4 linked regions of the Homo sapiens genome follow. The protein of the gene in region 4 purifies or fractionates together with the protein of the main gene of each other region. This does not show direct contact. Each region holds a gene or a part of one and is shown on either strand. Other genes may lie near its edges. The genes, in order: PYGB, FBXO8, SEC63 and BIN3.

The links.
Region 1: the proteins of BIN3 (region 4) and PYGB purify together in Homo sapiens (affinity purification with mass spectrometry; one large-scale study listed by BioGRID and IntAct). This does not show direct contact.
Region 2: the proteins of BIN3 (region 4) and FBXO8 purify together in Homo sapiens (affinity purification with mass spectrometry; one large-scale study listed by BioGRID and IntAct). This does not show direct contact.
Region 3: the proteins of BIN3 (region 4) and SEC63 purify together in Homo sapiens (affinity purification with mass spectrometry; one large-scale study listed by BioGRID and IntAct). This does not show direct contact.

The regions. Positions count from the first base shown.
Region 1 is NC_000020.11:25,276,360-25,283,993, forward strand, and holds part of PYGB (glycogen phosphorylase, brain form), read left to right. Parts: intron 1-286; coding exon 287-398; intron 399-884; coding exon 885-967; intron 968-1,959; coding exon 1,960-2,103; intron 2,104-2,697; coding exon 2,698-2,790; intron 2,791-3,906; coding exon 3,907-4,053; intron 4,054-4,589; coding exon 4,590-4,753; intron 4,754-5,673; coding exon 5,674-5,788; intron 5,789-6,816; coding exon 6,817-6,918; intron 6,919-7,634. UniProt on the Homo sapiens protein: Glycogen phosphorylase that regulates glycogen mobilization. Phosphorylase is an important allosteric enzyme in carbohydrate metabolism. Enzymes from different sources differ in their regulatory mechanisms and in their natural substrates.
Region 2 is NC_000004.12:174,260,930-174,268,563, forward strand, and holds part of FBXO8 (F-box only protein 8), read right to left. Parts: intron 2,172-7,634; 5' UTR 2,164-2,171; coding exon 1,835-2,163; intron 1-1,834. UniProt on the Homo sapiens protein: May promote guanine-nucleotide exchange on an ARF. Promotes the activation of ARF through replacement of GDP with GTP.
Region 3 is NC_000006.12:107,909,709-107,917,342, forward strand, and holds part of SEC63 (translocation protein SEC63 homolog), read right to left. Parts: intron 3,720-7,634; coding exon 3,658-3,719; intron 3,067-3,657; coding exon 3,008-3,066; intron 1,689-3,007; coding exon 1,638-1,688; intron 1-1,637. UniProt on the Homo sapiens protein: Mediates cotranslational and post-translational transport of certain precursor polypeptides across endoplasmic reticulum (ER). Proposed to play an auxiliary role in recognition of precursors with short and apolar signal peptides.
Region 4 is NC_000008.11:22,619,834-22,628,171, reverse strand, and holds the end of BIN3 (bridging integrator 3), read left to right. Parts: intron 1-2,759; coding exon of another isoform or gene 2,760-2,871; exon of another isoform or gene 2,872-3,802; intron 3,803-3,808; coding exon 3,809-3,950; intron 3,951-4,122; coding exon 4,123-4,257; intron 4,258-5,474; exon of another isoform or gene 5,475-5,631; intron 5,632-6,603; coding exon 6,604-6,750; 3' UTR 6,751-7,754; downstream 7,755-8,338. UniProt on the Homo sapiens protein: Involved in cytokinesis and septation where it has a role in the localization of F-actin.

The sequences.
Region 1 (7,634 bases), on a different chromosome or scaffold from region 4:
GTCAAAGCCATTCCTGAGGAAGGTCAAGTGAGAAGATAGGTCTGGTCTGGGGAGGGTGGTGGGACGGGTGGTCCTCTCAGGATGACAATGTGGGCACCACAGGGGAGGGCGTGGACGGAGACTGTGGTGCCGAGCATGGGCTGGGTGGATGTGTTTGGGCAGAAGGGGGAGACGGTGGGGGGCCAGCAGGGCGCCAGGTGCCCAGGAGGAGGCTGGGCCGGGGAGAGGCACAGGGGCCGGCGGGGGCCCTTGCCACTCCGTCCTGAGCAACCCGTTTTGTGGCCAGGTGGTGCTGGCCATGCCCTACGACACCCCAGTGCCCGGCTACAAGAACAACACCGTCAACACCATGCGGCTGTGGTCCGCCAAGGCTCCCAACGACTTCAAGCTGCAGGACTGTACGTTCCGTGGTTCTTGGCACCCTTGTGTCCATGTGGGTGGCTGGTCCCAGACACCCTCGCCCACAGCCTTTACCGCGCCCTGTGGCTCACTGTCCTGGAGGCCGCGCGGCCCTCCTCTAGGGTGTCCCTGCGTCCCAGTGAAGAGCGAGGCTGGTGCAGCTTACCTGTGTGTGGGGCCTGCCCGGGAAGGGCCTACAGGCAGAGCGACCAAGACACCTGGGCCCTGGGCACCCAGGGTCACCTTGTGCAGATCATGTGCCCCTGGGGAGGAGTGAGGGGGATGGAGTTGTGTGCGGTACATAGGGGAGCTGCAGGAGGGATCACGTTTACCTCCAGGGATGGGGGTGAGGGGAAGTAATGCAGCGGCTGGGGGAGTCCTGTGCTCGAGCGAGTTTCCTTGGCCTTTGCAAGTAGGCCCCTGAGCGGTTGCAGTGCTGGTGCCAGGAGGCATGTGTGTGTTGACCCCGCTCCATTTCTTCTTAGTCAACGTGGGAGACTACATCGAGGCGGTCCTGGACCGGAACTTGGCTGAGAACATCTCCAGGGTCCTGTATCCAAATGATAACGTGAGTAGCTGGCCTGGGCACTCTTGCTCAGGCCGTATCGCTTTCTGGCATAGAGAGGTGGGCTGGCTGGCCGGGCTCCCCAGTGGGGCCTGCTGTTGGCCTTGGCAAGCAGCCACCTGGTGGCCCTCTCGCCTTAGGTGCACACACGATGCCCTTGGGGAGGAGAGGGTGCACTGTCCTCCATAAAGCCCAAGCGGCTCTTCGTGTGCCTCTTGGCAGCTCTGTGGTCCTCTCTCCGAGGACACTCTCTGCCACCTTCCCCTCTTATCCACTCCCCTCATAAACACACAGCCGCTCCTTGGGGCCAGCTGGAGCCCGTCAGCCCTCCAGTCTGTGTGCTGTTCTAGCCTGCAGTGCCACTTCCCCAAGCAGGTGATCTGTCTGTCCAGGGGACCGTAGCGCCTACTTGGCATTGATGCCTGGGGACATTTGAAAGGTCCTTGGCACATGCCCTTCCCATACTAGGTGATGGTGTCGCAGCCATGTTCCCCACTGCCACCTGCATTTAGTGCCCAGTGGCTTTCTTTTTGTTGTTGTTGCCTGACAAGTCCTTAGAAGATGCCCTAGTGGGCAGAGCATGTTTAAAAGTGAGCTTTTTGTTTTATGAAAGTAACCTGTGCACACAGGAGCAAAGGCCTGGGTGCCGGAAGGCTCATCAAAGAGTGCACTCCCCTGTCCCCATGAGACTGTTGGCAGACCCCAAGCCCCAGGTACAGAATGTTCCAGAAGGCCTGTGCTTGGACAGTGCAGCTCCTGAGCAGCGCTGGCACTGTACTTCTGACGGATGGACACTGTGTCCCGGGGTGTGTCCCACAGGCGGGGTTACCTTCCTCAGTGACCTGAGGGCACACAGGCAGGCCCCAGTGTCAGGCAGCTGGGCTGGGCTCCTCTCGGCCTTCTGCCTGCACCTTTGAGCCAGGTCGCTGACCTGGGCTTCCTGGGGGAGGAGAATGGCCCAGCCTGCACCCTCCAGCTTGCTCTGCTGTGTGCAGTTCTTTGAGGGGAAGGAGCTGCGGCTGAAGCAGGAGTACTTCGTGGTGGCCGCCACGCTCCAGGACATCATCCGCCGCTTCAAGTCGTCCAAGTTCGGCTGCCGGGACCCTGTGAGAACCTGTTTCGAGACGTTCCCAGACAAGGTGCATGGTGGCCCTGGGAGGGATCTCAGTGCCAGGGGCTGGGCGCCTTCAGGCTCTTGAGGTTGCTTTCTCATGTCCCAAAAGGGGCTAGAGTGGAATGGTACATGCCCCTTGTCTTGGGGTCTCGTCATTCTGGGCCAGGATCCCACCTGGGCCCTCCCTTCCAGAACAAGGGCCACCGGCCTTGTTAGGAGTCAGGTCAGCAAGGGACATGGTGAAAGGCTCCTGTGCAAAGTCAGATGTGCTGGGCAGGCTAAATGGGGTTATTCCAAACAAAGCCCTATAGTTCCAGTGAGAGAGCCCCCAGCCCCGGTGGCCACGGCTCCTCCCCTCCGGCTGCAGCACATACCCGCAGCAGAGCACACAGCTGTAGGGCACTCACCAGCAGGCACATCGGGCACAGCGCACACCTGCCACAGTGCGAGCCCGACTGTCCTCCCTGCTCCCTCCACAGAACCCCTCCCTGTTCTCCAGGCTTCTCGGGGGTGGGGTGGGCTGGGCTGGCTCCTTCACTTGGGGAGCTTCGTATGCCAACAACCGTGGGTGCCCACGTGGGATGAAATGACTGAATGGCACCCCTTGTGCGACCTTCAGGTGGCCATCCAGCTGAACGACACCCACCCCGCCCTCTCCATCCCTGAGCTCATGCGGATCCTGGTGGACGTGGAGAAGGTGGACTGGGACAAGGTGAGCATGGAGGAAAAGGGCGGCACCTCCCCAGAGCCTGGAGCCCGTGCAGACCAGGGCTACAAGGAGCTGAGCTGGGGGGCCTCTTCCCTGGCCTTGGGAGAGCTGTGTGGTCATCATGCCCAGGAGAGACGCGAGCTGTGGGAGGGGTCTGGTTCCAGGAGACGGAGGTTCCGGGGGCCAGAGTATGGGGTCAGGGCGCGGGGGAGATGATAAGGATAGGGCTGTGACACTTCTCAGGGTTTCCCGTTGGTGCATTCTCATCTTGAAATTTGGTGACAGCTCCCCAAAGCGTTAAGTGTTTAGAGGTCTGTGCTCTATTCATGCACCTGCCCTCGCGATTCAGTGTATTTTGGACTTAAATATGTTTGTGTGGTAGGATTTTCTTAATCTAACCGTTACCAAATCAACATGTGGAACCATAAAACAGGCCAATGTGGTGACTCACACCCGTAATCCTAGTGCTTCGGGAAGCCAAGGCAGGAGGGTTGCTTGAGGCCGGAAGTTAGAGACCAGCCTGGGCAATACAGCAAGACCCCACCTCTAAAAAAAAAGCCAGGTGTGGCAGCACACACCCAGAAAAATAAAACCAAAAGAAACCATAAAACGATTTTTTTTAACTCCGTTTTGTAGAAACCCAAGCCCCTCTCTGGTCTTGGGGTGTGTGCACTCCAGGTGAGGCTGTACCTGTTGTGGGTACCCCAGTTCTGGCCAGCATAGGGCAGGTCTGTGTAGTAACCAGTGTCCTCCCCACCATGTCTGGCCACTTTAGTGGAAATAAATAGAAAACTGCTCAATGGTCTGTCCGTTTACCAGTGACGGCAGAGTGTGAAGGTGACTCCAGGTAGCAGGCGATTGTGTCTTATTTGTGTGTGTGTCACGCACTGGACCATAATGTCACACTTCAGTGGGTTGCGTCAGCAGAGTGAGGGCTCTGGGCTGCGTGTCAGGCTTTCAGAGGGCTCCAGATCCACCTTGGAGAGCAGAGGGGACGGTGGCCCTTCCTGGGGTACCCAGCATCTGCCTGGGATCCTGGACGCTCACCCTGCCTAGGCAACTGGCCAGAGAGCTGCTTGTTTCTAAACAAACACATGGGAACATTCTCTAATGGCCTAGGCCTGGGAAATCACGAAGAAGACCTGTGCATACACCAACCACACTGTGCTGCCTGAGGCCTTGGAGCGCTGGCCCGTGTCCATGTTTGAGAAGCTGCTGCCGCGGCACCTGGAGATAATCTATGCCATCAACCAGCGGCACCTGGACGTGAGTGTGGGCCCAGCTGGCCGTGTAGGGTGGCGGCTACACCCATGCCAACGGCCCCCCACCTGGCCTGGGAGAGGAGGTGCTTTGCTCCTTGAACGAGGCACCCTCTGTTCAGCAGAGGATGCTTGGGGCTGGGGGCTGTCCCTTGGCAGAGCTATTGGCTGATCCCCACGCCTGGCCCACAGCCTCAGGTTCCTCTTTGTAAATTAAATTGCACGTCCTCTCCCTCAGACCCATCTTCCTCAGACAGCAGCCCTGTGGGTCCCTGGGCCGGGCTGGGCCCTTTCCTGGGCTGGGGAGTTGGGTGAGCGAGAGCCTCCTCCTCAAGCTGGGCCTGGGCTCTTGTGAGATGCCTTGGAGGTGCCTGCTGGGTCTGGGAGCACTTGAGGGAGGTCTGGCTGTCACAGCCCCAGAACTTCCCTGGAGGCAGCAGAGCTTCCCATGGGTGGTCATGGAGTGTCCCCTGGTCATGGGGAGTGCTGGGTCTCCGTGGGGCCTCCTGTGCCCACCCACCTGCCTCTGTGTTTTGGCACCAGCACGTGGCCGCGCTGTTTCCCGGCGATGTGGACCGCCTGCGCAGGATGTCTGTGATCGAGGAGGGGGACTGCAAGCGGATCAACATGGCCCACCTGTGTGTGATTGGGTCCCATGCTGTCAATGGTGTGGCGAGGATCCACTCGGAGATCGTGAAACAGTCGGTGTGAGTGGGGCGCTTGCCCGAGCGGGGCCAGCTCTGTCTGACACCCAGGCCTGCGTCTAGGACCATCCACCAAACACATGGACCCAGCTATATAGCATACAACCTGTGCCACTAGGCCCCTGCCTCCATAGGAATGACAGAGCTGCCCAGAACACCCTGTCAGGGTCACGCCTTGTTGTGCGTTCACCGACCAGCACACGGGGGCCTCTGGAGGGCTCTGGCTCTGCGGGCAACGGGGAGACGGCTTTGTCTCCTGTTGCTCTCCTGCGCCCCTGCCTTCCTGGGGGTCCAGTCGGAGGCTCTGCACCACTGGTCCACCTGCCGCTGGCAGGGCTTGGACAGGGCTTGAAGGTGGGATTCTTAGGTCAGATCTTGTTCTTGCCCCTCTTAGGTGGGGCGTGATCTAGGAATTACTCCCACTCTTTCACGTAGCATGTGCTGAGCACCTACTGTGAGTACTGAGCAGGCAGCAGCCGGCGGGAGCGGAGGCTGTGCCCGGGGCTGGGCTGCAGGCTCTGTGCGTGGCGCCCGCAGCAAGCTTCGTGTCGGGCCCCTCCCCAGTAGCTATGAGGAAACCGAGCGCAGCTTCTCAAGCCCTGAAGTCCTGCGGTCTCGGCTGTCATGACTTGGACACCTGTTTCCGCACGGACCGCTCTGGAGAATGGCCAGGCTCTAATGCCTGCAAGGTTGTGGTTGGGCAAACCGCACAGCCAGCCACAGATGCCCCGGGGTGCAGGTGCTGCCTTCGTATGGCTCCCAGAGCCTGCAGCTGCCGCGGTCACTCTGTTCTCCTTAGAAAACAGAACAGAACCACTGAGCTTGAGGGCTCCTGGGACCTCCTTAAAAGGACTTTAAGGTCTGTTGCTCACCTGGTGCAGGGCACAGCATTTGTGACAGTTCCCTGTTCTCTGTGTTTGCAGCTTTAAGGATTTTTATGAACTGGAGCCAGAGAAGTTCCAGAATAAGACCAATGGCATCACCCCCCGCCGGTGGCTGCTGCTGTGCAACCCGGGGCTGGCCGATACCATCGTGGAGGTGAGTCCCGGGCCCCACCCGTGCCTGTGGAGATGCCTGGGCTGAGAACCGCGGGCCATGTCATCAGCCCCTGCTGAGCGGTTGCTGAGTAGGCAGGAGTCTGTCCCTCACGTGTTGACCTGCAGGCTTCTGGACATGAGGGCTGAGCCCCTGAACATGGGCGCTGAGCTGGGCAGTCACCCATTGGGCCTGGCGGGTCCTGTGTGCGAGTTCAGAAGCCGAGCTTTAGGGAGGGCTGGGGTGTGGCTGAGTGCAGCCACGGGGCCACTGCAAAAGAGTCAAGAGGCAGCTGACTGCCAGCTAGGCTGGGCACCTATTTCCTGTTTGTATGTTGGCTCCTATGCAAGCTCCCTGAGGAAATGAGTGCTGAGGTGTCAGGCCCTGCGCTACAGGCAAGGACCAGCCGCTGGGAGGGTGGGACCGCCCACCTGGGGCTATGGTCAGGGAAGCCTTCCCAGGAAAGCTGAGGTCTGAAGAGGGAATGAAGAGAGAGTGAGCAGTGCTCTGGGGCAAACTGGTTCAATGCCCTGTGCTGGGGGACGGGCCCCTGGGACCTGGAAAGCAGCGTGGCTCCTGTGCAGTCTGAGATGGGCCTGGGTACAGTGAGGAGAGGTGGCCGAGTGTTTGCAGGCAGCACCTGGGTGAGGTGCTGGCTTTGAGGGGACCGCCTGCTTCAGGCAGGGAAGGTGCTGGTGGAGGGCAGCGGGAGGATGGCTTTGGGTTTTGGGTGGTGATGGGATGTTCAATGTCAGAGAACCCTGGGATCGGTGGCTGAGGGAGGGTCGTGTGTTTCCTGTGGACGTTTGAACTGGTGGGACTGGGCCATCTCGCAGAGCCCTCTCAGAAGAGGAAGGAGGGGCTGCTGGGGTAACCCTGTGGCCTGAGAGGTGGGATGCCCGGAGGGGCCGGACAAGCAGATCCCAGGGGAAAGCAGGGGCGTGGGCAACAATGGGAGGAGGGCAGGTGGCTAGGGGGCCCAGCCTCAGGAGGCTGAGGCCCACAGTGAGCGGAACCTTTACGTTCTCCAGAAAATTGGGGAGGAGTTCCTGACTGACCTGAGCCAGCTGAAGAAGCTGCTGCCGCTGGTCAGTGACGAGGTGTTCATCAGGGACGTGGCCAAGGTCAAACAGGTAGGCATGGCCCTGGCCCCAGCCCCGACCCCAGCCCTCCCACAACCAGGCAGGTAGGCCCTGGCCCTAGCCCTCCTACAGGCCCAGCACAGGTCCTGGGGTACCCACTGGGGCTTTAGTGGGGACTCAGAACAGGACTGAGGGTGAGGCTGTTAGGGTTGCCTGAGGTCTCTCCACCCCACTCAGCCTTTCAGATGAGGGCCCCGAGGAGGACAGGTCACATGGCAGATAGGTGAGTGCAGACCCCAGGCCAGCCCTGCCCGTGCCTCGACCCTCTGCCACAGGTCAGTTCTGTATGGAAGCCTCTAGAAGCCGATTCCAGCGTGGTACCCTCTTTGCCCCTGGAGAGCTGTGCAGGTGCACGAGCTGTCTGCACCGGCAGCAGCCTCTCGGCTAGACCAGGGCCAGTCACGGCAGCCTTCAAACCTCAGCGGGCTGGAGGCCCATCTACACAGCCTGTCGAGCTTGGCCTCCTCATAGAGGCCAGAACTAGTTCTCCTTGTAGTCCTTTCAGCCGTCCCGCTCCCGCGCTGCTCCGCCGCCTGCACGCCTGGCTCTGCAGTGTCTTCTGCTTGGCTCCAGGCGTGCTCCTGGGCCGGCTCCTCACTTATCCCCTACTCTTGGTGTGGACCCACCTTCAGCATCCCCCTCTCCCCTTTTCCCATGAGAAGACCCCTGGTGCAATCTCTGCCCCTCAGCTCCAGCCTGTATACCCC
Region 2 (7,634 bases), on a different chromosome or scaffold from region 4:
TTCCTTCTTTTAATAAACACACAAAGTGCAGAGCAACAAGAAAAAGTTACTGTCTGAGCATATAACATCAAAAATTGTGAGGACAAGGGGGTAAAATATCTAATTTAACATGAGACTACCCTCTTAGTAGTTGATTTATACTGCTGCATTATTTTTACCCACCAAATGAAATCACTGACTCAAAACTGTAAGTATAAAAAATTGTTTAGAATATTATCAATATTTTTTCAGTCTTATTAATCTAGTCCCAATAAAACCCAAAACTAGAGTTTTATTACTAAGCTTTGTGAAAACCAGAGAACTTCCCAACATCAATGAGTATTCAATACATCCAAAGTTGAAATTAAAACTAAGCCAGCCTTTAATTTCAAATAGAAGCAATTTATTATTAAGGAAAAAATCCAAGTATTATAAAAATAGGCATAATTATGGCAAATATTTCTTTCACAAATGAAAAATTCAGATTTAAACCCCAAATGAAGAATACATTCTGGTTGACTTCAGGTAAGGCTAGAAATTAAACTTTTAAAAAAAGTTCAAACAAACAGAAATTAAGTTAGTAAGGAATACTAAAATGTAGAAAAGAGATTAGAAAGAATGAGCCAGTTTAAAAGTACTTTCATTTCCTCTTCTATTCATGAGTAAAAAATTAATAACATTTATTTTAAAGACTCCTCATTAACAGAATTTCCTCTCACGTAGTACTTTCACTATGTCAAACAAATGAGTAAAAGAATAACAAGATATGATATTGATGATTTTTATCTATTTAGAGGTTGAGAAATGACCTATATAACTTGTACTAGAACTGTGTGACATCAGAAAGCCTAATTTAGGAATGTCATTACTGAAAATATATTTTGACTAAAGTTTGTAATTTATTAAGTCTCTCAATTAGATTTCTAGTTTGAAATTATAGGAAGTCTTAAAAAGATATTTGTTTTTAGTTATAGTCTATATTTTTATAAAGACCTATTTCAAGATAATAAGACAAATAAACTTTGGTAAAGGATGCTAGAAGGTCTGAGATCCAATGATTCCATGTTTGGTAATATTTTTAGGCCAAAAAATCATGTACCTATACTTTTTGTTAAAGTATATGATGCTATTTAAGGAGTAACTTAGGTTCAATAAAACAGATTCTATTCCAGCAAATGTTCTTAGATTTGTGGTTTTAATTCAGACTAGTACAATGTGGAAATTTATGTAATCTAAGTTCAGCAAGTAAATAAAAACAACTATTTGTCCCCTTGCTTTCTAATATTTGCCTACTTCATTGAAATGCTGGTTAGAAAAAAAAAGTAGATAAAATTTTCACCAGTTAAATTTTATTCTAACAAGCACCTTTGAAGAAATATAGAATTGAGTAAAAATGTAAGGCTCTATATGAAGAAAATTAAAAACAGTAACATTTGAGGACTATTCATTGATTTCGAAGTCTGCCTATTATTCAGATGGCAGGTATCCTATGGGAAGCACAAACTACACAGCATGTGAACACTCCAACTTTTAAATTAGAAATTCTCACTCCACAACTTTGCGGTATTTTCAGAATAAAGTGAGAGTTTCTGACTTATAATCAACTGACAGAGCCTGATTGGTAACCTCTCTTCTAACTGTAAAGTTATTATTCTATTTTCTATTGTCCTCCTTTTCACAAGATCAAATTTGACTGTGATGCTAACTGTATATTTTTCCAGGTTTTAATAAAGAGCATCTCAAAGTACAAGCCCAAGTTTAAAGAAAATATTTTGTAATATACATTATAAAAAGAACATTGAAGCATGATTATGTTTAGAGATACCTGAATTCAACTTTGGTGGGTTTAACTTACCCTTGCCAGAGAAGTTCATCATTCGCAAGGTCCTGCCAAACACATGAAGCCAAGCAAAGGTCAGTTGCATTCAGGTAGGACAAGATGGTAAAGCTTAGCTCAGGAGGCAACATTTCCAAATTAATGAATCCTTCCTGTTCTTTCGATTTCCTTGCCTTCAAAAGATGATATATGTCAATGCCTCCTTGGACTTGTTTACGATGATTGGTGTTAGAAATGTTGCTCGCAGCCATTCTCCTGCTCTGCTCTCTGGTGAGGTAGCCTTGCTCACTGTAGCCTTCTTGTTGCAGCTGCTGGTTTCTGACCACTCTCCACAACCCTTGACCCATCTGCAAGCCTGGGAAAAAGCCAGAATGTAATAAGGGTGACATTTAAAAAGTAACCCATTTTTCCCAGTGGTATAACAAATCTGACATGAAGCATTCATTTATCAGAATTAAAACTTCTCATTAAAACCTACTAAAACCAGAAGTATATTACTAAGAATAGCTGGAAAATTATAAGTGCAAATTTTGATAGACAAAGTTTCAGAATTACTTGGTTCGATCATCACCTTTATCCCAGTTTGCTAACTACTTCTAAAGTCCATATGTGACATAATCATTTTTCACGTGGTAAGATTTAAAAGTTACTGATGTCCTTAATACTCTTACAAATTATAATTATGTGGACTTATGGGCCAGTATTAAATACAGCTCTGATCAGAGCACGGACTTTAGTTAAAAGGCCTCCAGACCCTGCTTTTTATCACAATTCAGTCTAAGCTAAGCTAGCTCCTTTTAACCAAACTCCCAGATGCGTAACAGCTGGGAAACAGGCTTTTAGTTTAATTCTTGCCAGTCTACACTTACATTGTAGACTGTAATAAAATGTAACATAGGCCCTGAAGTCTAATTCAGAAACCTTGTAAATTAGACACCTAGAACTCCATGATAAATAGCTCGGTAACAGTAGACTATTTAGTTTTGTTGTTGCCTTAAATTAAAAATTGTAATTTAGAGAAATTTTCTAATTCTTCTCCACAAATCCCTATGGATTCTTCAGAAGTACCTGGGAAAAGACACCAGAAGAAAGGTGTGCTCTAGTCTCCCCACTACCATCTGACCTCCCACCAGAGCATTCTACATTTGTCTGTCACATATATTGACTTCCTCATGTACAAATGTATTAGAAAATTCCTAGAGCTAGATTTGGCATTGCCTTTAAATAGCTTTTCTGGAGCAAATAAAGTCATTCAGAACAACTAAATCGGAGTTCCTAATGAATACAAATAATTACTTTCATGATCTCTTTTTCAAACAAAATACTTTTATCAACTCGAGTTGACTACTAATACCTGTGTGTTTCAAAAACTTGGAAAAAATACTAACTTTCCCATAAAATCATTAAAATAGTCAAATAATTTTTATAGCATGACCCGAACTTAAAATATAATGTGGCTTCAATTAACTGTTTACAATAAGTACTAACAAAAACAAAAGCAAAAACCCCAAAAGACAAAAAACAAACCAACAACAGTGACTAGATATCTTTTAATCAGAAATAATTTGAAAATTGAGTGGAACTTCAAAGAATGTCAAAGATTGTTGTTGATTAAAACAGAAAAAATAGTGGGCAGACTAGAGCATGCCTTCTTCTGGTGTCTTTTCCCAGGTACTTCTGAAGAATCCATAGGGATTTTATTTTAGTATTTAAAAAGGTATAATCCACGCATTTATTTACTAAACCATTGGCTATTATTTGGGTAATGGCCACTAAATTCGGTCATTTGTTGATTAAAACAGAAAAAATAGTCCAGGATAATTTTTAACTCTTCCCCCACCTTATATTGCACTGCTTGGAATCCCAGCAGCTTAAGCTATACAGGTATGGTGGGGAGGTACAAAGAGAAGAAACATATTAATAATTTTAAAATGTAGGCACATTTGTTTTTGAAAAGAAGGCACAAAAGATAACCCTTCTCTCCCTACTACACACGACACCATGGTATTTTTTCCTAAATCAGTGGTTAAGCTATACAAATAAAATTCTTAAAAAAAAAAAAACAGAATATCGGGAAAATAAAAAGACAAGCCACGGACCAGGAGAAAATCTTTGCAAAACACATATATGATAAAAAGACTGTGCATCCAAAATATGTGAAGAACTCTTAAACCTCAGCAGTAAGAAAATAATCCACTTTAAAAATGAGCAAAAGATCTGAATAGACGCCTCACCAAAGAAAATACACAAATGGCAAATAAGCACATGAAAAGATGCTCAACATCATATGTCGTGAGGGAACTGAAAATAACATAACTATGAGATACTACTACACACCCATTAAAAGAGTATATCCGAAACAGTGACAATACCAAATGCTGGCAAGAATGTAGGAATGCAAAATGATACAACCACTTTGGAAGACAGGTAGTTTCTTTAAAAATTAAACATACTTTGTATGATTCAGCATTAGCTGAATCATTTACCTAAATAAAAGCTTTTTATTTAGGTATTTACCTAATTAAAAGCTTTTTATTTAGGTATTTACCTAATTAAAAGCTTTTTATTTAGGTATTTACCTAATTAAAAGCTTTTTATTTAGGTATTTACCTAATTAAAAGCTTATGTCCACACAAAAACCTACACGTGAATGTTTAAAGCAGTTTTGGTAATTAATTTTCAAATCCTGTAAGCAACTACGATGTACTTCATTATGCGAATGTATAAATAAGCTGTGGTACAGTATATCTATACAATGGGAAATTATTTAGCACTAAAAAGAAATGAGCTATCAAGCAATGAAAAGACATGGAGGAACTTTAAGTGCCTATTATTAATGTTAAGTAAAAGAAGCAAATCTAAAAAAGTTCTTTACTGTATGATTCTAATTATAAGACATTCTGGAAAAGGCAAAACTATGGAGACAGTAGAAATGATCAACGTACAAAAAATAGAGAATGTCAACAAAAAATTATAAGTACAAGTTTTATATTTGTTTAAATGTACCATGTCACATTACAACATTAAGTACAACTTAATTTTGACACAAATTGAACATTTTAAGTCTACTAATCATAAAGAAAAGTATTTTATTTTCACCATTGCTATTCCTCTATTTAACTTAGCAAGAAAATATCTAGAAATCACATTAATTGCTGAGCTCACCTAGCACAGCTGTTATTTTAAATAATTAAATTTATTCTCTTTTGTTTTTGTACCACTAAAGGTAAATTATCAAACATGGTAACTGCAGTATCTGAAGTCTCAATATTTAAAACATTTATAACAATTTCAGTCTATTTTCCTACAGAATCTTTCTAGTGGCATATGGTTAAGCAGCTGTTGCTACTCTTAGGCCTGTTGCTAGGGAACAAAGAATCAGGGTGATTTCCCTAGGCTCCGGACTTTAATGGGGATCACTTAAATTGAACACACTGGATAATATGATTCAGAAAGCATCCGGCAGGTAGAAAGAGGTAAAGCCAGCAGCTGGTTCTTTAAAAAATAATAATAATAATAATGGGGAGGTTGGAGGGTTGAGGCTCATGTATACATAGTTCAGACAAAGAAAACTGCAAAATTATACCTTATTTTCTGTATTCCTACTGCTAAACAATACTGAAAATTGTCCCCTTGGGACTTTCGTTTCCCTTTAAAGCAGTTCTTGATCCTGGGTAAAAACACAGTAATGATAAAGCACTCTGAGAAAGAGTAACATCATGAGTTTAGCATTTGGAGAAAGAAAAGGGAGTCTGTAGCGTTCTGCCCCCATTCCCTATCTTCCTTAGCATAATAGGGATGTGAAACATGGGTGTAACTGTCAGAAAAGCTTTAAAACTCTCAAAATGACGTGACATCCATTGTATAAGTTGTAAAGCAAGTCATGGAGGGAGTATAGTGGTATGGGTTTTGAAGTCAGACAGACCTGGGTTTAAATCCTGACTTTATTAGTTCTTACTTACAGGACCCTGGGAAAGTTACTTGACTACTCTGAGCTTTAGTTTCTTCATGTACAATGCAAAAAATAATAATGATAAAAATGTCTATAGCTCAAAAAGCTATTGTGTTAAGTAAGATAATGTACATAAAGTTAATTTCATGGCTAACAGTTAACTAACAGTCAATACGTTAGATATTACTTTGACAAGCATATTTTTATCAAGTGAAAATAAGCACTTTCATAAAGCTTATTTAATGATACTTAAACTGTTCTGATGTCCTGCCTGTTGAATAAGCTTATTTGTTCATGTTGCTACTTGCACAGCTTTGTAGGGCCTCTACACACAATTCACCTCCTTTAGTTATTTCATATTGTGACCATGTTTTTATGTTGTTTCTTCTTGTAAATCCAATTCTTTTATATCAATGACCCAGCAACAACAACAAAAAACTCTAGAAAACAAAAAAAGGCTGTGTTGTCTTTCACAGAAAATTTTAAAACTCAGCATGCCTGAGGATGGTGCCAATAGCAGTTCCATGAAATAGGTCTTTGTGTTATTGTTAATAATCTGTCAAGATGTGGCTAGGTATGGTGACTCATGTCTGTAATCCCAGCACTTTTCGAGAAGCTGAGGCAGGAGGACTGCTTGAGACCAAGAGTTCAAGACCAGACTGGGCAACATAGACCCCGTTTCAACAAAATACAAAAAAAGTTAGCTAGGTGCGATGGTGCATACCTGTAGTCCTATCCACTCAGGAGTCTGAGGCAGGAAGATCACTTGAGCTCAGGAGTTTGAGGTTATAGTGAGCTATGATCACACCACTGCACTCCAGCCTGAGTGACAGAGTGAGACCTTGCCTCTAAAAAAAATTAAAATTAAAAATTAAAAGAAAATAAACTGTCAACACTAGCTCTAAAAGAGATGTAGAATATGATGCAGTTTCATGCGGGGTTCGTCCATGATTTCAAACTCTTGAAAATAGTGTTTAGACTGAACCAATTAAAACTTAATTTCAAAGTATAAAGTTTTCAGATTTGTGTTAAAAGTTTTAATAATATCTTGGTATAAAGATTTTAAAACTGAAACATAATATTATAAAAGATATATTACTGTCCTGTCACTTGCAGCAATTGTTAGGTAAAATAAAATTCAGCTGCAATGTGGAATCACTGAATATGCAAAAAGTTTCAAATTCAAAAAAAATTCAACACAAAATAAGTTTTTGTATTTGAAATCACTAGTTTTGGTGTAAATATGGATTTTGTGATGAAACTACAGCTTTATTTGTTCACTCAAAATAGGTGGAGAAAATAGATATTTATTTCTTTGAAAAAATATTTACTCTTCTAAGAGCATAGTCTATGTTAGTCTATCTCATACAGAAATAAAAGAAACACGGTTGCTTCTTGTTATTCATGGCAATTATGTTCTTTAAAGTTTCTGCAAACACTGAATTAGCAATACTGAACCATTGTTCCTAGGGAATTACAGGGTTAGGTTACTGTAAGCCTCTATTCACAATATTTTCATTAACTGATCAATACATAACCTTACTGTATGTGTGTTTCTGCTGAAAGACATTTAATACATATTGCTAATTCATTAACTGTGAACTCATGGCCAACCGCACTATAACTCAGGCTTGAATGAGGCTTATCTAACATGTATTTTATCCATAAGGCACAACACTTAGGAAAACTAGATAACGCTTCTGCACTAGGCTTGGGGGCCATTTTTTGTTTTGTTTTGTTTTGTTTTGTTTTTGAGATGGAGTCTCGCTGTGTCGCCCAAGCTGGAGTGCAGTGGCGCGATCTCGGCTCACTGCAAGTTCCGCCTCCCTCCCAGTTTCTCGCCATTCTCCTGACTCAGCCTCCAGA
Region 3 (7,634 bases), on a different chromosome or scaffold from region 4:
TAAACAAATGTAGGCATAATTTTACAAGTTGACATGACACTTTCATTCATATTACTTAATATGATTGGATTCTTGCAACAATCCTTTGAAGAAAGCAAAACAAACAACTTAATTATTAGACTCACTATGTGACTAAAAGGAACTCCAGGATCAGAAAGGACACAAGTCACAAAAGTAACAAATGGTGAATATCAAATTGTATGGTATCTCCGTATTATAGTATTATACAGCTGTTTTAAAAAATGAGGCTTTTCTATATGTTGCATCCCCATTATATTAAGCAAAAAAACAGAATAATGCACACATACAGTAAAATCTCATTAAAGGTTTTTTTTAAAATGAATGTGTGTACATAAATTCATAGAAAAAGATTTTAAAGAAAAAACACCCAACTTCCCAATGATTCCTAAATAAATGAAGTTGAGGGTGGTAGTGCGGGAAGACTTTCATTTGAAACTTTAAATATATCTGTGTCAGCCAGGCATGGTGGTTCACACCTGTAAGCCTAGTACTTTGAGAGGCCGAGGCAGGATAATCGTTTGAGCCCAGGAGTTTAAGACCAGCCTGGGCAACGTGGCAAGACCCCATCTCTACAAAAAAATTTAAAAATTAGCAGGGCATGGTGGTACACACTTGTGGTCTTAGCTACTTGGGAGGCTGAGGTGGGAGGATTTGCTTGAACCCAGGAGGTAGAGGCTGCAGAGAGCCATGTTTGCACCACCTTACTATACAGCAAGACCTTGTCTCAAAAATAAATAAATAACAAAAATAAAATTAAAATGGACAGTTTCCCTGTATTTAAAACATATATATACATATATGCATGTCATACATATATACATATATGCATGTCATACATATACACGTGTCATACACATGTATGTCATACACACACGTGTCATACATATATGCACGTGTCATGCATATATACACATGTCATACATTTATACACATCTGTCATGCATATGTACACATATACATATGTCATACATATATACATACACACATATGTATACATATGTATATATGTATCTGTGTTAACTCAGTTGTAACTTTTGTGATTTTTGTTTTTTTCTTTGAGACAGAGTCTCGCTCTGTCACCCAGGCTGGAGTGTAGTGGCACAATCTCGGCTCATTGCAACCTCTGCCTCCTGGGTTCAAACCAGCATGTCTGACTAATTTTGTATTTTTAGTAAAGACAGGGTTTCACCATGTTGGTCTCAAACTCCTGCCCTAAATTGATCTGCCCACCTCAGCCTCCCAATGTGCTGGGATTACAGGAGTGAGCCACCATGCCCGGTCAGTTGTGGGTAATTTTTGAATTGGGAGGATATACACATCATGCTCAAGTAATGTCACATTTAGAAGACCATTAAAAGTATAGTTATATAATTTTTTTTTCAGTTGGGGTCTCACTCTGTGGCCCAGGCTGGAGTGCAGAGGTGGGGTCATGGCTCACCGCAACCTCAAACACCTAGGCTCAAGCGATCCTCCCACCTCACCTTCAGTGGCAAGACTCTTAAATTCAAGGATCAATGGGTTATATTCTAACATACATTTAAAATGTTATAGGGAGACTCCAAAACATGTCAATCTCCTTTCCAAAAAAAACATTAACTTAAAAAGCTAAAACTTACCACAACAACTGGAAGGATAACCATAAATGCCAATCCATATACAAGTAAAACCTAAAATTGAAGAGAAAAAGAATTATGGCCTTCGTCAGGTAAATTAAAACAACATCCATGAATTTATTTTGAGGCTTACAATGGGGGAGCCACTATTAAAAGGATTCCTCATGTATTATCTTGTTTAATCCTTATTCTCAAACTCCAAGAGGAAGGTACCATTATTACCCTCCTTTTGTAGGTAGAAAACCTGCAGTACACATGGGTTACATAACTTGTCCTAGGACACAGCTAGCAAATTGCACAGCCAGGATTTGAACCCAAGTAGTTCAGCTCTAGAGCCTATGTTCATATCCACTATAATAAATTACCTTTTAATTTTTTATTTACTGACACAATACAGATTAACACCAGCAAAACAGTTTTGTAAATTACATTTCTCTTCCAGTCAGGCAGGTATTTATATATCCACAACCTCTCAGTAGTTAGTGCTCTGGGAACAAATGAGATAAGAAGCCCCTGGCCAAAGGTTCCTTTAGCTAAATATCAAGGAGTCACTTCATAATGCTGACTAGCAATTTTTACCTACTGATTTTTCTCCTATTACTTGATCCTAAATCTGGTAGTAACTTATTCCTTCTCGACTATTCCTACTAACCAGAAGCATGACAAACAAGCTTATGCAGCAACTGTATACCCCCTCAAGGTAACCAATTTTAATCTGCCAGATAATAACTTAATAGCCATTTTCAAAACAAATTACAGACTATGTGGATTTTGTTTTTATTGCCTCAAAGACAGCCTTTAGACAATTATTTTCAAGAAAGTTGAAGTAGGAATGTATCCCTGAGTAAGATAATTCTTGACATTTTAGGGTTGCAGTGATTGAAGTCTGATATCCTACCTCCTCCTGAAATACCATATGGAATATATACAATTCAATTTATTGTAAATTAAAATTAGGCATAGTGCTCATGCTTGTAATCCCAACATGGTGGGAGGCTGAGGCAGGCAGATAACTTGAGGTCAGGAGTTTGAGAGTTCGAGACCAGCCTGGCCAGCATGGCAAAACCCCATCTCTACTAAAAATGCAAAAATTAGCCAGGCATGGTGGTGGGTACCTGTAATCCCAGCTACTCAGCGGGGGCTGAGGCAGGAGAATCGCTTGAACCCAGGAGGCAGAGGTTGCAGTGAGCCGAGATCACGCCACTGCTCTCCTGCCTGGGCAATAGAGCAAGACTCTGTCTCAAATGAATGAATGAATGAATGGCACACCAGTATTTTCTTTGTAATAGTTCTTCTTGTATTACCAAGACAGATTGTACATAACAAAAATTTTGTCTAATACATCATAATGTATCTTATTTAAATGCACTCACCAGAATTGAGTTTTTCTGGTCAACTATCCAAGCTGGCAGGGCAATTCCAAAGCTTGTGGCTGAAATAGAAAAAATATCAGTTTCTGAAGAATCTCTACTTTCAGTTTTAATAAATACATTAAATATATTTGGGATCTATAATATATCCCAGAACTCTCCCCCACAACACAAAAACAAACTTTGAGAAAGATTATCTTATTAGTAGGCCCCCATTACACAAAAGTTCAGGGATATAGTTTATATCTGAAACTTCAAATTTTTCAAGGAAAAAGAAACCCTGTAAGTACAAATTCCTTCTCTCAAGAAAATATAAATTATTTTATATGTCCTGAGTTTACATAAACACTATGAACACATGAGAAAATGTGAAGTCTGTAAAGAAAAATAAGATTTTTTCCTCCAAATTTTTATCAACTAGTAATTGGAAATGATAGTGATTATTCTTCTCTATGGATCAACTTAAATTATATCTTTCAAACTAGTCTTTAGAAAGAAAAATAAAGCAAAAATTAATGAGAGCTCAATTTATCTATGTTAAACTCCATGTGAGTATAAGTTTAGTAAGAAAATAATATTATTCCTTTAATCTGGTTAACATTTTTATAATATATACCATATCGCCAATATTTTAAAATCATCATTTACCACACCTTGAGGCCCATCTGGATTTCCAAATTCTTCCCAATTTTTCCGGGACTCTTCATCCGTTAAACTAGCATCAAAAGAACAAAGTTGCAAAATTAGAAAGCCACATCTGAAAAACAAGTACTCATATAGACAAACTCCATTAGCCAACCAACTCATTTCTTAGAAGATACTGATTCCATGAATCAAGAAAAGTTTCTCTGAAATCAGGAGAAAGGGAAAGGGAGGAGCAAGAAATGCGCATTAACAGAAAATGCTAACTATTGCGTCTTGATACTAATTCCTGGTTGGCCCATGGTTCTCAAGCTTAACCAGTTCTCATGTTCAACCAGATGGTTCTCAGTTCAACCAGATCAAACTTTAAAGGCAACTACATTTTCTAAGAAGGCAGGGAGAATTGTAGGCGATTTTTTTCCCCTTATACTCTCATATATTTTCCAAAATTTCTTCAATGAGCATGTTTATACATTAGTAATGATAAATACACATTTTTTAAAAACATAAATTTAATTCATAATGGTAGCTTCCCCACAAAACAATAGCACCACATTCTGAAAGAAACAGATGACCACCACATGTAAAACTCCATTGCTGTGGGTAAGGTAATTTGCACTGTGCTAAGATCACAATTTTCTCCTAAGCCAATTGCCAGAAGAACCAGGAAAATTTCTCCTGAACAGCAGCTTCCTAACCCAGGGAATGTGAAAGTTAAAGAGTAATTTTTAGATACCTAAAATGTAACCCCTGACTTTGACAATGGCTCAAGGTACAGAGTCAAGAATAACTTTATTCCAGTTCCCAGTGAAGATGTTAAAAAGCATTAAAATGAATTCCCAATTCCTTACAAAAATATACAATGTAGTTAAGGAATATAAGGCAGAAACCACCCCACCAACACACACGCTCAAAAATGACCAATAACATAATAAGGAAGACATTCTTGGAGACCAACTGGTAAAAGATCTTCCATATGGTCAAATCTAATTTTAACCGTACTTCTACTTCTCAAAACTTAAGAGGCAATGTAGTTTCTATTTAACAAAACTCCAATCTGAGATAGGCAATGCAGAAATACCTTTATAAAATAGCAAAAAGGACATTCATTAGTTTTCGATGACTTGAAAATATTTTTAAATTTATCAATTTAGTCATTTATGCAAACAGGTGCCTTGATGTCTTTAATCCTTATTTAATTGTAACTCCACTTACACTATTTGATGAAAGGCCACAGAAAAATACAGGAGCCAATAAAAAGCATTACTAGACAGGTTGCAAGATAATAAGGAATAGTGCTAAGATTTTCTTTTCAAAATTGAGGGATGTTTCTCAAAAATTTTGTCCTAGATCCCCTGTACAACTGTCCACCCAACTCAGAGTTTTAGCTTGTTTCTTTCACTATTGTCTTCTAATTGGATCCTTCTGCCCAAAATAACCATCTCTGTCCCCTTCTGCCTTTGTGATTATGCAAAACAAACTGCTCTGTCCTCTATACAATACTCCCAGATTTTGCCAAATAAAGCATAGCTCACATCAGAGACACTCTGATTTTGCAACCTACACAGACCTACGAGTTACGATTACATTAACTCACTCATTAAACTGACTTCTACAACTGCTGTGTGATGGGAACCATGTTGAACATTCAATCTAATAAAATAAGTCAGCAACTTAAAGTCAGTTTAAGAAGCAAATGAATTTTTGTTACTTAGCATTTCAGTATAATACCACTTCTAAGAGTTAAAGTACTTAAAAGCTGCGTAATTTTAGTATAATTCACATTTAACAAGCTTAAACAAGATCAATGATGCTAACAGAATTTTTGAAAATTCAGTGAGTGTAGTTTCCTAAACATGATTATATCCCTTAATTTTTTGGGGGTAACAGAGGACGATTATAGATTCTCTTATGAATCTAAGGAAATCTATGACCCCTTTGCCCTGGGAAAAATGCACATTACAAAGACACATAAATTTTGTATACAATTTCAGGGACTCCAGATCATAAATCTTGATCTAGAGAATGCTTTCACTAAACTGTAAACAAGTGACCATGAGTTGGCTATGCACAGTTATTATAAGTTACATGCTCATCTGTAAAAACCATATGCTTTTATAAAAATTAACATATCTTTAAGGTGACAACAACGCTGCCCACTTGCTATACAATAGCTTTAAAGACAGGTTTTACATCTGAGAGCAAAATCTCAATTCTATCTAGATAATGAACCAGAGAATTCAATGGTATAACTCCTAAAGGAAAGAGTGAAAATCTGATTAAAAAAAAAATGAAATGACCCAGCTGGTTTATTATAATAGGCAACTAAGGAGAGAAAAATGATCTCAAATAACCTAAGCAAGTTCTAAAAAACTTTGCACATCAAAGCCTATATAACTGCATTCCAAGGCTGCTAGAGTTATTCATGAGATAGGAACTTCAACTCAAGCACTTAGAACTTATAGTTGGTAAAATATATACCTTTATCTAATATAGTTATATTTATGCAAGTTACATAATCTCAAAGTTCTAGGTCCCACGATCACTTCACTTTTTCATTGGTCTTACAGAACGTCAACTATTTAAGACATTTTATACATAAAATATTCTACAGTTTAACCACATAACTGAGTTAAAACTAAACACCTTATATTATTCTTGTGCATTTTTCAGAATAGTGACCACACATCATAGTCAGATTTCCAGAAATCTGAGAACAAAATTATAAACTTGAAAATGTTAAAATACCTAAAGACTGGGGGGATAGGGTGGGGGGATTTCACCAAAGCACTAAAATAAAAACTACTAATTAAATAGTCTTGGCTACCTGACTTCCTCTGGAAATGTCTTTTTAAATTACCTGAAGACAGCAATCAAGGCATACCAATACTTGTGAAAAGAGAGTAAATGCTTGAAGGAGACACTAACTGAAAGACAGTAACCTCAAGGACAACTGCTACGCAGAAAATGTAGTACACACTTCAAAAGTCCTAATGGCACTGCTTTATTACAGAATCATATAGTAATTCACATAGATAAACAGCAAGCCACAAAACAAGGGGAGAGAAGAGACATAGTCAATATCCTCTACTAAGTACAAAAATAAGTAAGGTGATATCTCCCAAACTTCTGTCATTTACATGCCACTTTCACAATTTGCTATTATAACTTAGTATGCTATTGCAAGCAAACTTCTTATTGCACTTTGCAGATAATCGTGTTTTTCTGCCATTTGTGTTAACCCTGCATCAAGCAATTCTATCAGTGCCATTTTTCCAACAGCATGTGCTCACTTCATGTCCCTCTCTCACATTTTGGTAAGTCTCACAATATATCTAATGTTTTCACTATTATTTTATCTGTTATAGTGATATGTGATCTTTGACATTTCTATTATCATTGCGGGGCTGGCACACAAACTGCACCTGCAGAAGAAAAAGAACTTAATACATATGTGTTTCAAATGCTCCACTCACTGGCCATTCCCCCATCTCTCTCCCACTCCTCATGCCTCCCTATTCCCTGAGACACACAAGATTCAAATTGGGCAAATTACTAACCCTAAAATGGCCTCTGTTGGGAGCAAGCCCCCACAAAATCTGGCCATAAACTGGCCCCAAGACTGGCCATAAACGAAATCTCTGCAGCACTGTAACATGTTCATAATGGCCCTAACACACGCGCTGGAAGGTTGTGGGTTTACCGGAATGAGGGCAAGAACACCTGGCCCACCCAGAGCAGAAAACTGCTTAAAGGCATTCTTAAGCCACAAACAACAGCATGAGCGATTTGTACCTTAAGGACATGCTCCTGCTGCAGTTAACTAGCCCAACCTATTCCTTTAATTCGGCCCATCCCTTCATTTCCCATAAGGGATACTTTTAGTTAATTTAGTATCTATAGAAACAATGCTAATGACTGGTTTGCTGTTAATAGATATGTGGGTAAATCTCTGTTTGGGGTGCTCAGCTCTGAAGGCTGTGAGACC
Region 4 (8,338 bases):
GGAAGCTCCCGGCTGCGTGGGCACAGACCAAGGCATGGCAGGCATTCCCCACCAGTGCTGGCTGCGCCCAGCCCACCTCCCAGCCGGCCTCGCTCACCTTCCCTCTCCTTCTCCTCTTCGCCCCTCCCATCCCCAGGGGAGTGAGTTTGATATTGAGCCTTAGGACAGACAAGAATTGGGCAGTGATCATGGGTAATGCTTTGATCACTGGCCTGGGCCCAGCCCGGCCCCCTTCTTTGAGGATAAATGTAAAACAGACTTCAGGAGCTTACAGTCTAGTGGAAAGCCACAGCGTGTTCTCAGGTCAGCGGCCAGGTGTGGCAGCTGCCAGCGTGGTGCAGGACCATGGAGCGGGGCATGCTCGGTGGGCTGTCTGACCTGCCCCCACCTGGCCTCGGAGGCTGTTTCCTCACATGTGGAAAGAGAAAGCCAAACTGACTTCTCATAATGGGACAGTCAGCACCTAGGAGTGGGAGAGGAGGTTTTGGTGGGCTGAGGTGGGCAGGGAGAGAGGAGGGGTGAAGTGCGCTGGAACAGCAGAGTGGAGCCTGGGTCCTGGCTTCACGCCTGGGGACAGGCTCCCCCAGTGTGGTTGGGTAGAGTCAGCAGGGCCTCTGTGGGGTCCCAGGGACATATCTGGGAGGGGCTGGCACAGGCGCCCAGCCTGTGCACGTCTCCACCTCCCCTGCCAGCAGCCTGAGCCCTGACCTGAGATCCCACACAGCACCGTGGCACATCCACTGTCCACCCCGGGGCTTTGGCAAAGTCTGTTCTGTTGCTAAGAAGTAGAAAACGGGGAGATGGGGCCTCAAAGGGTCAGTGAGTGACCAGGGCAGATGTGACAGAGTCCTGGTCCACTACTCTTCAGCCACCTTGGCACAAGCTGCGCCCTGCCCTGACTGATGTGAGTTCCCACTGAATGTAGAAAGGTGTGACACTTGTCCCTACCCCTAGGGAATCCCAATCCCAGGACCCAACCTCCCCCCACCGTGGTTGTAATTTATCAGCAATCACCTCCAGTGGCCTGAGCAGGCAGAGCCTCTTGGTGGCTAAGGGGTGCTGTCATGGGAAACGGAGGTTTTCATGGTGAAGACATGCTCTTCCCACTGGGGCAGGCGGCCTGCAGAGGCAGGTGGTCTTGGTTCCAGGGGGCTGGCAGGAGCCCATGCAGCCAGGTGGCCACCTGGAGACACCACCACGCCATCCCCCGAGGAGCTCTGTAACCCGGCCTCCCTCACCCCCGCTCGGCACTCCGCTGTAGTCAGCGCTCCTGGTGGCTCTGACTCTGGCACAGGAAATAATAAGCCCCAGCCGACAGCTGTGGGAAGGGGGCTATGAGAGTGCCTCAGGGGATGTTGGGGGGTCAGGCTGCTGGAGCAACGAGCATAGGGCTCCTCCCATCCTGCACCGTGGAAGCCACCTTGCGCACACACGGCTTCACGCTGTGATGCCCTCCTTCCTGAGGATGTGAGCTCAGGGTGGTGGGATTGGGGCCAGGGCCAGAGAGCTCTCCACCTGCTGCCTCCTGCCTGCCTCATCCTTGCCCTGTCCCAGCGCCTGCACCTACCCGGCAGCTCCCAGGCACCCACAAGGCCCAGGCACTGGGACCATCCAAGCAGCAGGTGGCTTCTAACACAAGGATCAGGGCGAGGACCAGGGTAGCTGCCGGTGGTCCCTTGGCCATTTGGGGCTGAGGGAGAGGTGGCCTGGTAGCCTCTCAGGCCCAGCTGCACCTGCTGCCTGAACACGTGCCTCTCAGCTGCCCAGGAAGGGGGCAGGGCTCCCCAGCAGCTGCAGCTCCACCACGCAGCCGCCCTGGGCAAAGCATCAAGTCTAGCTCCTCCCAGCAGTCTCACCCCAGCCCACGCCATGGGCGACTATGCATCCTGGTGGTGTCTGCTTCCCACCCTCAGTTCCGTAGTGCTGAGGGGCCCGCGTTCTCTGTGCACAGTCCTGGGAGGCCCATGGCTTCTGCCCGGCAAGTCGGTCAGATGCTGGTTTGATTACTATGTCTAAGGGCACGGGTGAGCATTCAGGGTGCTTTGGTGGCTTCACCCACTTAGCACCTTGTTAAGACAGGGAGCCCCTTATGGACACTGTTGAGGTAGAGGATTCCTGTCTTGGGGATAAGCCCTTTGTTTCATCAAAATCTACTCCCTGGGTCTGACTTAGTTTGGGGGCATTTAATGCTTTGGTAAAGTTAATATCCTCTTACTCCCTGGCAAAACTGTTCATTACTCTTACCTCAAATGTACACTTGATTTGCTGAGGCTTTTTAAAAACAGGCCGGCCACGGTGGCTTACGCCTGTAATCCCAGCACTTTGGGAGGCTGAGGCGGGTGGATTACTCAAGGTCAGGAGTTCAAGACCAGCCTGGCCAACATGGTGAAACCCCGTCTCCACTAAAAATACGAAAATTAGCTGGGCGTAGTGGCACACGTCTGTAATCCTAGCTCTTCGGGAGGCTGAGGCATGAGAATTGCTGGAACCCAGGAGGTGGAGGCTGCAGTGAGCAGAGATCATACCACTGTACTCCAGCCTGGGTGAGAGAGCAAGACTCTGTCTCAAAACCAAATTCCTGGTCATGTCCTTTGAGAGGCACATCTGGGAGTCCTGCTCTGTGTGGTAGCTGAGCTCCTGGAACCTGACAGTGAGTCTGCCAGCATCCTCTCAACTCTGAGTGCCTATGATCCCAGTCTCAGTAACTGCTTCCTGCCCTCGTCTTTCCTCCTCTCTGGGTTCCTCATAAAAATGTCCAGGAGGAACCAACTCTTCTGGTCCTGGGTCACCTCCGAATGGCCACAGAGTCATGAGCTCCCTGGGCTGCGCAGCCTGATCCTGGACACTGCAGGGCTCTGGCTTGCCTGGTAGACGCCCCCTGCCATTGCACCGAGGGCCAGCCCTCCAGCAGCAGCAGCGAGAGCCTCAGGAGAGCACTGCTCCTGGTCACTAGAGGACACATGATCCACAAAGACGAGGCCGGTGTGGACCTGCAGCGTTGCATCGTCCACTGCTGCTCTCTCTGAGGGCCACTCCTCTGAGTCTCCCACGCGGTCCCTTCTAGTCACAGTGGAGGTCCTCAGGGCATTTTCCTGAAGCAGCTGGTTGGAACTTTGGCGGTTCCAATGGCAGAGCCAGAGGATTTCTGCTGCTTTCATGTTGCCAAGGAGCCCTTGAAGGAGAAGGTGCCCTGGGGCAGGGGTGAGTTTAGATTTCAGTTCTGCCACCTGCCAGTGGCACTGTGAGGGCTGGAAAGGGTGCCAGACAGAGAATGTGGACACCTGTGTTCTCTTCTAGACCTTCTCTGCCTCATCGTGACTTTGGATGAGTCATAGGTCATCTCTCTCTGTCCTCAGTTTCCCTCCTTTTTAAAAGTGAGGTGTTGGCCAGATGACTTCAAGGCACCTTCCCCACCATCCCCTAGTCCGTTGTGTGATAAAGCTCACAGGAGGTGGGGGTCAGGGCACCCTTCATTCCTGGGCCACCCTGTGCCACCCAGCTCCCTGGACCTGGCCCACAACCCCACCTCCTCTCATCTGCCCTCACCCCATGACATTGTCCACGTTCGCACAAGCTCCAGGGGACAGGGCCTCATCTGTCTTGTTCACAGTGAACTCCCCAAGACCTAGAGCAGGGTCTGGCGCTTGGTAGGTGCTCAGGGCACATTTTTGGACAAGTGAGTGCTGGCCAGGACGCCCCTCCAAGAGCGGACCCATCTCCAGCCAGGCCACCCCTCCAAGAGCAGACCCATCTCCAGCCAGGCCACCCCTTCAAGAACGGGCCCATCTCCAGCCAGCTTGTCCCACAGGTTCGGCAGTGTCTTCCCGAGCCTCAACATGGCTGTGAAGAGGCGGGAACAGGCCTTGCAGGACTACAGGAGGCTGCAGGCCAAGGTGGAGAAGTATGAGGAAAAGGAGAAGACGGGGCCAGTGCTGGCCAAGCTCCACCAGGTACCAGGGGAGACAGGTGGGCAGGGGCTAGACAGGTGGGCCATCGTGGTCACCTGTGGTAAGTCCCTCCCCTCACCTGGGGGCACCAAGACACCAGACGTCCCCACCCCACCCATCCCGTATCCGGCACCCAGCAGTGAGAGAGTTTTGACACCCAGGTCTTGTTCCCTAGGCACGAGAGGAGCTGCGGCCTGTGCGGGAGGACTTTGAAGCCAAGAACAGGCAGCTGCTGGAGGAGATGCCGCGCTTCTACGGCAGCCGCCTCGACTACTTCCAGCCCAGCTTTGAGTCCCTCATCCGAGCTCAGGTGAGGCCGCCAGGTGCTCTTCCCCTGGGCTTGGTATACACAGCTCATGCCACTCCCTGTCACCCACACTGGAAGGGTGGCTTAGCCATTCTCCGTAAAGACAGGGCACCCACCCCAGGCAAAGCCCTGAAGGAATTCATTCCATTACCAGAGTCCCAGGCTCAGCGACTTGGGGGACCTGTCTGCTGTTAGACTCCTCACATTGCTCTCTGGTAAATCCCATACCAGGAATGGCCGAGGTTCCCTTTTGGTCCAGCAGTTCCGCCATGGATCTCTCTACATTTCACTATAAGTAGCTCCTCTGCCCCGCACCCTCAAGTGGGCGGTTTCTTGGCCCAGGGTGGTGCCGAGAAGAAAGGGATCTGGAGAATGGAGGCCTTTTCTGAGGACTCAGCTCCCCTCCCCTGCCTACCGTGAGCCAGTCTTTTTAGCAGGAAACGGCGGGAGTCCTGCCTTGGAACCACTAAGGAAGGGGGCTCCAGAGCCCTGGGGAGAGCCACAATCAGGGCTGCTCCTAGGGCCCTGGGGTGGAAAGGCAGGCCTGGAGGCATGGGGGCGCCACTGGGGGTCAGACACGGGCCAGGCCCCAGCGTCTCCTTCCACTCGGGGACGGGAGGACACGGAGTGGCATGCTCCTCACCCTCCTCCATCTTCAAGCCTTTAGGAAGGATTGTTCCCCCAACTGGCAAAATAGAAAAGGGTGGGCACCCATGCCAGAAGCGGGTCCCTTCCACACAGGACCCTGCTGATGGCTTGCGCTCAGCAACAGCCTTAGTACCCCAACACCCGTGGCACCCTGCCAGGTCCCTGTGGCTCTGCCCCTCCTGGCCCGGGTGGTCTGAGCGTGGCTGGGCGTCTGGCGCCCTCCAGTGGCCATTTCCTGCAGGCCCGTAGTCGCAGCCGTGAAGCCTGGCCAGTGCACACCCACCCTGCCGGGCCAAAGTCAGGGTGGCCACCTGCCCCAGTCAGGACACCTGAGCAGGGTTCATGCCGGGGCGGGACCTTGTCAGTGACCCACGTACTTGGTCCTGTGCCATCTTTAGGGGGCAGTGAGACCTAGAGCCTTCTGCAGGAGGAGGTAGGGACTTCTCCTGACACTTGCTCCTGCAGCGAGGGCTCCCTCCAGCCGCCCCATTGGGTTCACGGGAGACCTGGGCCTGCCTCTTCCTCACTGTCACCTGGGTGCTGCCCTGCACCCTCCCTCCTGTTGCTCACAGGAGGAAGCCACAGGGTGCCAGGCTCCCGCGTGTCCAGGTTGGAGCAGATGGGAGGCCAGGGATGCCCTTTAACCAGGCAGCATTGCTGGGGGCTGTTGACTGCCTCTTGGGCCCCAGCCTCCCCCTCGCCCGCCCGGCTGCCATTAGTCATGGAGAAGTGAGTATTCCCAGTGACTCAGCGCACAGTGGCTTGGGCAGGGAGTGGGGGCAGGGTGGGCCGCCGCCAGCCCAGAGGTGACAGCAGTGTGTTGAGACCAGCTCACTTTAGCACCCCCTCGGCCGGCGGAAATCTCGCCTCAGGAGTATCAGCCGTGGGTCCCCGCCCCACCTGGCATTTCCCACAAGGTCCCCTTAGTGTCTAGAGCTCCTCCTCATGTCTAGAGTGAAACGTGGAAGCTTTCAGGAAACTGCATGCTTTCATTGGGTCATGAGGTAGAAACTGAGGCAGAAGTGGCCCCTATTGTCTGTGGAAAAGCCCCTGGTCCTCAGCCATCTGGGAGAATTGACGGGCTTCCCCATTCCTCCACCTGCCCCACCCTCAACCCTGTGTCCCCTCCCACACCATTTCTGGTGCCTCCCTAGAGGGACCCTGGCAGTGAACCTGGCCTCTGAGCTGTCCCCCTGGCCACGCAGCTTGGGCCATGAGCAAGGGTGGGATGCAAGTTGGGAGGGAACAGAAGGCTAGACGGGCATCCCCTTTCTTGCCTGTGCCTCTAAAGCTGGCTTAGGGCTTTGGGAGCCATCAGCCTACCATGCTGTCTTTCTGCCATGGACAAAAGCCTTGGGTTCTCCCCTAGCTTACAAAAAGCAGTAAAACTCCAGTCATGGTGCCCATCATTCCACAGTCGCCCTAGGAGGCCCATGCCTTCCTGCACCTGCTGCTGGGGGAACCAGGAGCCCGAAGCAGGGGCGCCTCCACCTCCAGCCACTGAGGCCCTGTTGCTCCCCGGCTCCTTTTGGTTCAGTCTCAGCTAGAGCCCTTCCGTGCCCTGCATATCCCCAAAGGCACGCTGCTGCACAGCTCCAGATGGGTAAGGGCAGGGGGTAGCAGAGAAGTGTGAGCCTCTGGCCCCCTGAAGCACACGGTTCCCTGGAGCCAGCACGTGCCAACCCCTGTCGCCTCCCCCAGGTTGTGTACTACTCGGAAATGCACAAGATCTTTGGAGACCTGTCCCATCAGCTTGACCAGCCAGGCCACTCCGATGAGCAGCGGGAGCGGGAGAACGAGGCCAAACTCAGTGAGCTCCGGGCCCTCTCCATTGTGGCCGATGACTGAATCCCCGTCACTCTTGGAGGACTCCTGTGACGTGGTCAGCCTCATTCATCCTTGCCCTTCTCAGGGCTAGCTGCTCCTCTCACAGGCTGGGGACAGAGGTGGCCCTGGTTCACTTGCCGGCCCTTTGCAATGAATGACTCTTCCTGAGCCTGGCACCAGGAGCCCTAGGCAGGCCGCCGTCTCCCCACTCACAGCCCCAGCAGGTAAGCAGTGTAGACAAACCCTTGGGGCTTTTTTATTTGGAGAACCGTCCAGCATGCATCCTGGCCCACGGCCTGAGCAAGCTGCAGCCCTTCTGAGGCCATGGGCTTCGTTGGCTAAGTTGGGGGTCTTAGCCTTGCATGCGTTGTGGGCATCAAATCTACCTCCAAAAGACCCATCCTGGGGAGCCCTCTGGCCCCTCGTTGCCTTTTCACTTCAAAACCTCTTTTTTCTGGGAGAGGCCCTGAACCCTGTGCGGGAGAGCTGGTCCTCCAGCCCTGGCAGGCCCTCAGCCAGCTTCCCAGCAAGACAAAGGGCACCCTTGTGGCTTTGGGACCTAAGTGGTTGGGGTTCCCGAGGTCACTGAGGACTGGTACCTCGGGAACGCAAGCTGTCAGTGGAACTGTCCCACAAGAATTCACAGGTCTCAAAGCAGGAACAGTGGGTTTGTGTCTCACCTGAGTATCTGGAATTTTATTTTTTCAAGTAAAATTTTCAATGAAACGTCCACATAGTATTGTGCTGTAACTTAGGCGAGCAGAGGAAACCCCTTCCTGGGCCTGCTGCCCTCCACGGAGCAGCAGCACCCTCCAGCAGGCAGCCCAGCATGCCAGGGGTGTGTGCGCACCTCCCCGGCCCTGGCCCACCTTCTGGAGCGAACTGCACCGTGGTCCAGCAGAGGCGCTGGGTGGGAGGGCACGCGGGCAAGCCTAGGAGAGTAGGAAGAGCTGTGGAGGACACACTCTCAGTTTGTTTTTGACTTTGGTTTATTTAAAAAACAAGCCAAAAAAAAAAAAAAAAAACCCCAACTTTATATACAAAGTCAAACTGAAACCACGGATTATGGAAAGAGGCAAGAATTATGGGTAACAGGGGAGAAGGCTGGGCCAGAGCCAATACCACATTCTGAACACAGGAGCCACGGGAAAGAGGTGCTGGTTTCTTCTGGCAAGACCGGGGTGACTGGAACGCAGTGTTCTACTGGCAAACCCAGCCCAACACTGAGCTCTTTCTAGCATGGACTCCATTCCCGTGATGGCCAAGGGAGACCCTTCCCCCAGAAGCCTGTGTCCGGAACCTAGCAGAGCCTGTGCCATCCGGAGGAGGGGGCTGCTTAGCCCCAGCCAGGCTCCATGTCTTGCTCTTCAGTTCCGTTCACTGACATCAGACCTTGTCCCACACTCGAAAAGCCTTTTTCTCCCCTGTCTTATTCTAAACTGGAAGAGGACAGGAGAAAGTCAGCACAAGACTAAAAGGGCCCCAGGAGAAATACCAAGGTTGAGGGCAAAATGACATTCTAGGGGTGCAAAAGATGTTGTATTTAGTTGTTAAGTGGAACCGGGGTTCCTCACACATCCATCCCACATAGCACAGCCCCCAGCCTGAT